2 linked regions of the Homo sapiens genome follow. The protein of the gene in region 2 interacts with the protein of the main gene of each other region in a biochemical or structural test. Each region holds a gene or a part of one and is shown on either strand. Other genes may lie near its edges.

Region 1 (3,750 bases), on a different chromosome or scaffold from region 2:
TGAGCCTGGCCTTTCTTTACACTCATGCTTCAACAATTTGCACTGCTCCTTGGTGACAACATGCATTCACTACAGTCACATCCAGCCCCACCTCCAGTCCACTTGGAAACTGGTGTTCCATAGGGTTTGCCCTGCCTGACCCTAAGCCCCTTTGCAGGGCTACCCCTTGGCTCTGGCAACAGGAGGCTGAGTTGTTTCTCCACCATAAGGTCAGCTTTGCATGTACCCAGGACACAGGCACATTCTCTTGTCCAGGGCAGGCCTTTGCAAAATAGCTGGAGTTTGGGCTCAAGCAAGGACCACAAGTCAGAAGAGACAAGAAATGTCTAAAGAGGGATTCACGTGCCTGGCTTCTATCAGTCTGACGGACCAGGCAGGTTGATGGAAGAAGCTCTCTGGGTCCCTCCCCAAACAACATTTAATACGCAGCTGAAGGACTGAATGACAAACTTTATTAGAAACGCTCTTCATTCATCAGTCAAATTCACATTAAGGTGGGGGCAGTGGGGTGGGGAGGAAGAGGCAGTGCTGTCTGGGGCTCTGATATCCCACTGCTGTGATGATTTCCAGTTAAAAATGAGTCTGGGCAGAGAGTGTCTGAAACATATAAGAGGTGGCAGCAGCAGTGGCGGCGGAGGCAGCAGCAGCATTCCTGCGAGAGGACCAGGCTCGGAGCAGGTAGAGAATGTGTCTCCCATATCCACCCTTCCAGTCACAAGGCTGCCCCCATGGACCTCAAGCTGATAAATAAACAGCACATCACACACACATTTGAAACAGGAAACAAACTTGTAGAAGTCTCCTAAAGTGAAAAAATAATTTGCTCAAATAAAGCTTTGTGACAGCCATGCCGCACCCTGAATGGACGTTGCCCAGAGACCCTGACACTCCAGGAAGGCCCCCCAACCCAGGACACATCAGACTTGGGTGTCACAATGCCCCCAGTTCCCCCGTTAGCACCTTTGGACTAAGTACTGTCCTCTCCGCATTCCTCTTTTAAAATGCAAATGCTACTTAAAATAATGGTAAGGATATGCTCTTCCCTGGGGCAAACCAGTCAGACTCATCTTCCCTGAAGAGAGGTGTCTGGGCATCCAGAGAACTGTGAGTCAGTGGCTGGGAAGGGGAGCACGTGGAAAGGGGTAGGTAAACAACGTTCAAAGAGGTAAGCCGGAAGGTGTCTCCACACTGCACTGTCCACTTGCCAGGTCTGCGGTTGGGCCTCCTGGGAACAGTCTCTCAAAGTGGCACAGAGTCCTAAAACGGTGTGACAATCCTGCCGCCCTGGCAAGGCGTATGGGCCAGGAGGGGCACGGCGTCAGGCTTTCATCATTCATTATTCAGAGGCAATTTTCCCCCTGCACTGGCTAATTTCTCCCTGGCCCTGTCTGCAACGGGGCACACAATAGAAAGTCTCCTGCCTAAATGTTTTATTCATTCTCTTGAATAAGGAAACAGGCTCTCTGATCAATACGGTGGCTGCTGTGTCCTGGTTGGTGGCAGGATTTCCAGGAGGTGCAGACTCCAGGCTCTCTGTGGCTCCGAAGGAGGTGTCTGACTTGGGAGGGCTGCCTCGAGGGCAGTAGATACTGTTGGCAAGAGACCTTTCGTTTCCAAAGTTGGTACCACATCCTGGTCTTTGAAAGAACTGAGTGTCCTGGGGAGCCAGGAGAAGGGTAGATCCTTTCCCCTATGTGCCATGGGACTGTGAATGACAGGAGGGTCGGGCCCTGCGGTGTGTGTCTGTGTCTGTGCTGCCCATCAGGCTTGGCTCACTGGTACTGCAGATAGTTTTTGAGAGACTGAGGCAGGGGCAGGGAGCTGATGTCCTGCAGGCGCTGGCGGCCCAGGGCCGAGCGGATGGATCTCCGGCACAGGTCCATCAGTGGCAGGGGCTCGGCTGCAATGAGAGGGAAGCAGTTAGAGTGTGCCCTGTGCCATCCTGGCACCTTCTCATCCCAGCCCCCACTGCATACCGCCTCCTGCCTGCTCCTCTGAGCTGGCCTTCAGGGTCAATGGCTTCTCCTTGGAGAAGATTTCTCTGGTTACATAAGCTGAAGGCCTAGAGGAGTGTTCATTAGACTGTGGAATGCAACCAGTGAGACTAAAGAGTCACAAAATCAATTCAATGGGTGGTGACCAGCCATAATTTTTTTTAAAAAAAGAGAAAATGGGAGCAATACCCATAGCAAGGATAAATATTGTTTCATGAAAGCCTTGTCTCTGGTCTCTGATGTAGGTGTTCAGCGTGTCTTTTTTTTTTTTTTTTAGATGGAGTCTTGCTCTGTCGCCCAGGCTGGAGTGCAGTGGCACAATCTGGGCTCACTGCAAGCTCCGCCTCCTGGGTTCACGCCATTCTCCTGCCTCAGCCTCCCTAGTAGCTGGGACTACAGGCACCCGCCACCAGCCCGGCTAATTTTTTGTATTTTTAGTAGAGACGGGCTTTCACTGTGTTAGCCAGGATGGTCTCGATCTCCTGACCTCGTGATCGCCCTTCTCGGCCTCCCAAAGTGCTGGGATTACAGGCGTGAGCCACCGCGCCCGGCCTGGTGTGTCTTAATGTGAAAAGGACTTCTCACTTCAGGTCATGATGGAAAATGTTTAAAAGCTGGTGGCCTTGGGTGGATCTGCAGAGGGGTTTCCTCTACAAACAGGTTAGATTCTGAGAGGCTGTCTGAAATGCCTGTGAACCCTGAAACTTCCCCTATAGCTTTCCTTGATGGTCAGCAGCGGGTTACATTTTCTTCCAGCACCTAGTTCTGGAAAAATTTGTAAGTTAAAATCCATAAATAATGGAACCACTGGACATAGGACCAGTTAAACCAACTTTAACTAGGTTTATTGCAGACCCCCTTATTAAGCTCTTATTCTGGTCCAGGCCCTTTGATTAGCCCTGGGGATACAGGGATAACTAAGCTAGCACCAGAGGCAGCTCTGGAAGAGGGTGGGGGCAGGTAGGGGGGTGGTGGAGGCTCATGATCTGGGATTTTAAATAGGTGAATCATTTTAATAGAGTGTAATATATGCAATAATTCTTAAATATACAGGTACAGAAACTGGGAATTTCTTATATAGAAGAGCTGTTTGAAAGCTTCACAGAGAGGACACATAATGGGGTTTTGAAGAGTGAATAGGAGGGTTAAAGGCACATAAGGGTGGGGAGGGTATCCTAGGCAGAGAGAACAGGCAAAGGCAAAGGAGGAATAAAACAGGACAGCCTGGAGGTTTGTGGGGAGAGGAACAGTGCTGATCAGTTAGCATCAGCTGGAAGGAAGATGATGATGGTGGTCACATGGCATCTGGTATGGTTTGTACAGGCCTGGTTTCCCCAGTCCTCCAGGAGTATGCTGGAAGCCTGAACCTGCATCTTAATACTTTTTTGGTAATAGAATAAATGATATTTCATAAACATCCTATAATGTACTAAGATACAACAAAACTGTTGAGTGGTAAATACTAACACAAGAGTTGTGATAGGAATAGTACCACAGAGAAAGGCCCTCTACAGATCCACCCGAGGCCTGCAGCTTTCAAACATTTTTTTATCACAACCTGCAGTGAAGTACTTTTTACATGGGAATGTAGTCAAGAGTCGAGAATATGTTTTATAGGAATTTTTATTTACCTGAGCTGCAGAGTTAATAAGGGGAGCCATTAAAATTAAAGTGGGGCTTGGGGAGCATGCTTTGGAAGCTGTGCACAAGAGTACATCCAGCTCTCCTTCACTTGAGGCCAGATCCCAAGGCTATC
Region 2 (3,750 bases):
ACTGATGTTACCAACTCAATCAGCCTAGTATCATTTATCCTGAGAACCCTCCTTGCACAAAATCAATTTTCAGAATTTAAAATATCTCCCAAAACGTAATTATTGTTTTCAATTTTCCATACAAGCGTCTTTCACTGATATCAACCACATTTGCCCAAGTTTGCTTTCACCTGAGGAAGTCCTAAATCATTGAGATTTAAATTAGGTCATTAATATTTTTACATCTATTTTAGCTTTTAATTATCAAATTGCCTCAAGCTATTGTATCCTATACGAGGCTTAGGTTGTCTCTTATTCCCCATATAATAGTTAATAACAATCACATGGAGATAAACACTGACACAGACTGTATAATTTAGAACTCTCACCACAGTGATTTTCAACTTTGATAAAATCCGTAGCATTTAATAACTAAACTTTAAATGTTATTACCTTCTCAAATATGGGAACATAGGAAGACATATGAGGGTTGATTTCTGCTTCCCAATCTTCATCTCCCATGGTGGCTTCAAGTTCTATTCATAAAAAAAAAAAAATGCACATTTGGACTCAATTAGATCAGAATCATAACTTTAAAAGCATAAACTCATTGTTTCACATACATCTTGAAACTACCCAACTAGGTGCTGATACCCCAAAAGTTTTTTCCAAAGAAGGAATTAGGTCTCTTCTTATCTAAAGGTGGCATTTATCTCCATCCTTTCTTAGCTTTAGAAACTAGTTGAACCTCTTACCTAGTCATTCTAGCAATCGCCATGTCCCCAGCAAGACTTAGGCTTTTCCCAAACATCTGTTCATAGACTTTATCTCCTCCCTCAAAGGGTCCCCAAACGACTTACTGAATATTAAGGGAGAGGCAACTTTTTTCAGAAACTACTTAAGATTTCTCCCTTCGCATGATTAACATCCAAGGTGGATAGGATGTTTGCTTTGGGGTGTTTGTGGCGTGCGTGGGGGCGGGGACAGGGGTACGGGAGTCGACTGGGTAGGGGGGCGGCGACTCGGTGAAGAGGGAGGCCTTGGATTTTAGTGGGGAAGGGAAGAAGGGTATGGTTGCCCAAATCCTGCCGACAAAGGACAACCAGCTTCATCAAGAAGGATTTGTACACAAATGGTACTCGGACCATGTCTGTTCAGAGAAAACGCAGTGAAGAAGCCAGGAATAAGGCCCCTTCGCCTCCTCTGCAGGCCTCAAGCCCAGACTTTGGGCACCCGTGGGACTCTGAGACCCCGAGGCAGAAAGGCTTCGAAGGACGGCTTCAAAACTCCTCCTACTCCATCCACACTTTGGCCAAAGGTCGGTTACTGGGGAGCCCGTACGGCCGAGTTCAGGCCAGTTCCCGTAGAAAAGCGGCCCACTCACCTCTCCGCGGCTTGCTCTCCCAAGCCCTCGCAGGCGCCCACGCGACTTAAACGGCTGCACGTGCAAGACGCCCACTGCGTCAGGTGCGTGGCTCCAACAACAAATGGCGTCTGTTGACGATTGGCTGGTGACTAGCGCCACCAGCCAATCAGCGCTCAGACGACCAGTGGCGTCCCGCCTCCACTTCTAGCCTGCGGATTCCCTAAACGCTAGCGTTCGGGCCCCTATGGCGACGCTCTGGCCTCATAGCCAAGTGGCCTGTTGGGCCTGTGGGTACAAGGCTGGCTGAGGGCCTACTTGTGTCCACGTTCTCTCGTGGGATCCTTATTCTGGAGACGCTCTGGATTTTCCTTGTGCAAGCTTCGCAAGCTAAATATGTCCACCTGCCTTTTTCTAACAAAAAATAATAATAAAAGGGGAAAGGGATAATGTCCTCCCTACTTGGCCTCTTTAGTGCTCTCTCCCCTTTTACCCATCACAGTCCATGGGTTGGCCCCTCGGGTTCTGCATTTCAGAGACTCGCTCCACATCCGGGGATTCCAGGTGCCTCAAAGTGCAGCTGAGGCTCATGGAGGAGGTGCATTCCCTTTTCCTCCCAGTAAGGGGGGCAGGGATGAGACTCCGTCCAGCTGGGACCCCAGGAAATCGTAAAGAAAGTTAGACTCGGCTGGGCATGGTGACTCACGCCTGTAATCCCAGCACTTTGGGAGGCCGAGGCGGGCGGATCACATGAGGCTAGGAGTTCGAGACCAGCCTAGCCAACATGGTGAAACCCCGTCTCTACTAAAATTAAAAAAATTAGCCGGGTATGGTGGCGGCTGCCTGTAGTCCCAGCTACTCAGGAGGCTGAGGCAAGAGAACCGCTTGAACCCGGGAGGCAGAGGTTGCAATGAACCGAGATCATGCCATTGATCTCTACCTGGGCGACAGAGTGAGACAGAGGAAAAAAAAAAAAAAAAAAAAGCCTGTAAGATTTCGGGGGTCCACCACTTTGGAAGGAAACAGGCTCTGATCCAGAAGGAGGGAGGAAATTGGTGCTGGCATAGGTCATTCATCAAGGCTTGGATTTGTGGCCCACCTGTTTATATTCCTACGGGCACTAGCCAAAGTGGCCAAGGGTTATTTTGATACTTCATGCTGTCTTCAATCAGATTTTCTTGTTCTGCCCCCACCCCCCACCCCAAAAGCAGGTAAAATCCCTCAGTATTTCCCCAGCCCTTCAAAACGCGTGACCATGGGCTGTTTTAAAAGTGTAGTTCTCAGAGGCCGGGCGCGGTGGCTTACGTCTGTCTGTAATCCCAGCACTTGGGGAGGCCGAAGCGGGCGGATCACGAGGTCAGGAGATGCAACCATCCTGGCTAACACGGCGAAACCCCGTCTCTACTAAAAATACAAAAAATTAGCCGGGCGTGGTGGCGGGCGCCTGTAGTCCCAGCTACTCCAGAGGTTGAGGCAGGAGAATGGCGTGAACCCGGGAGACGGAGCTTGCAGTGAGCCGAGATCGCGCGACTGCACTCCAGCCTGGGCCTCAGACCGAGACTCCGCCTCAAAAAAAAAAAAAAAAAAAAAAAGTGTAGTTCTCATTTTTGTTGTCGTTTCTGTCATTTTCCCTTCTCTGAATCTGAAGAAATTCCTATCTCATTCAGGAACATAAATAGCAACACAGTTTGATACTGGTACATAAAGGATAAAGCACTTAATAGGCTCAGGCTTGCTTCATACTTTTTATCTCTAGAACCATCACCACCAAGAATTTCAGGATTCATCTAGTTAGCAATAAACTTTGTCAGACTATTCTCAAGATGATCAAAATGAATATATTTTTTATTTATTTATTTATTTATTTTTGAGACAAGGTCTCACTCTGTCACCCAGAGGGGAGTGCACTAATGATCATAGCTTACTGCAGCCTCAACCTCCTGTGCTCAAGTGATCCTGCCACCTCAGCCTCCCGAATAGCTGGGACTACAGGCACAAGCCACCATGCCCAGCTAATTTTTAAAAAAAATTTTGTAGAGAAAGAGTCTCCCTGTGTTGCCCAGGCTGGTCTCCAATTCCGGGCCTCAAGTGAGCCTCCTGCCTCAGCCTCCCAAGAGTCTCCCTGTGTTGCCCAGGCTGGTCTCCAATTTCTGGCCTCAAGTGAGCCTCCTGCCTCAGCCTCCCAAAGTGCTGGGATTACAGCCATAAGCTGCCACACCCAACCTTAAAAGATTATATTTAGGCTGGGCACAGAGGCTCACGCCTGTAATCCCAGCACTTTGGGAGGCTGAGGCAGGTGGATCACGAGGTCAAGAGATCAAGACCATTCTGGCTAACACGGTGAAACCCCGTCTCTACTGAAAATACAAAAAATTAGCCGGGTGTGGTGGCACGCACCCATAGTCCCA

Evidence for each region. The genes of interacting proteins can lie anywhere in the genome.
Region 1: the proteins of DDX4 (region 2) and SPSB4 interact in a test that uses a peptide from one of them, tested with the Homo sapiens proteins (one study listed by BioGRID).

What each region holds. Positions count from the first base shown.
Region 1 is NC_000003.12:141,145,292-141,149,041, reverse strand, and holds the end of SPSB4 (SPRY domain-containing SOCS box protein 4), read right to left. Parts: intron 1,901-3,750; coding exon 1,773-1,900; 3' UTR 431-1,772; downstream 1-430. UniProt on the Homo sapiens protein: Substrate recognition component of a SCF-like ECS (Elongin BC-CUL2/5-SOCS-box protein) E3 ubiquitin-protein ligase complex which mediates the ubiquitination and subsequent proteasomal degradation of target proteins.
Region 2 is NC_000005.10:55,735,715-55,739,464, reverse strand, and holds the start of DDX4 (probable ATP-dependent RNA helicase DDX4), read right to left. Parts: upstream 1,405-3,750; 5' UTR 1,364-1,404; exon of another isoform or gene 1,125-1,363; intron 516-1,124; 5' UTR 502-515; coding exon 433-501; intron 1-432. UniProt on the Homo sapiens protein: ATP-dependent RNA helicase required during spermatogenesis. Required to repress transposable elements and preventing their mobilization, which is essential for the germline integrity.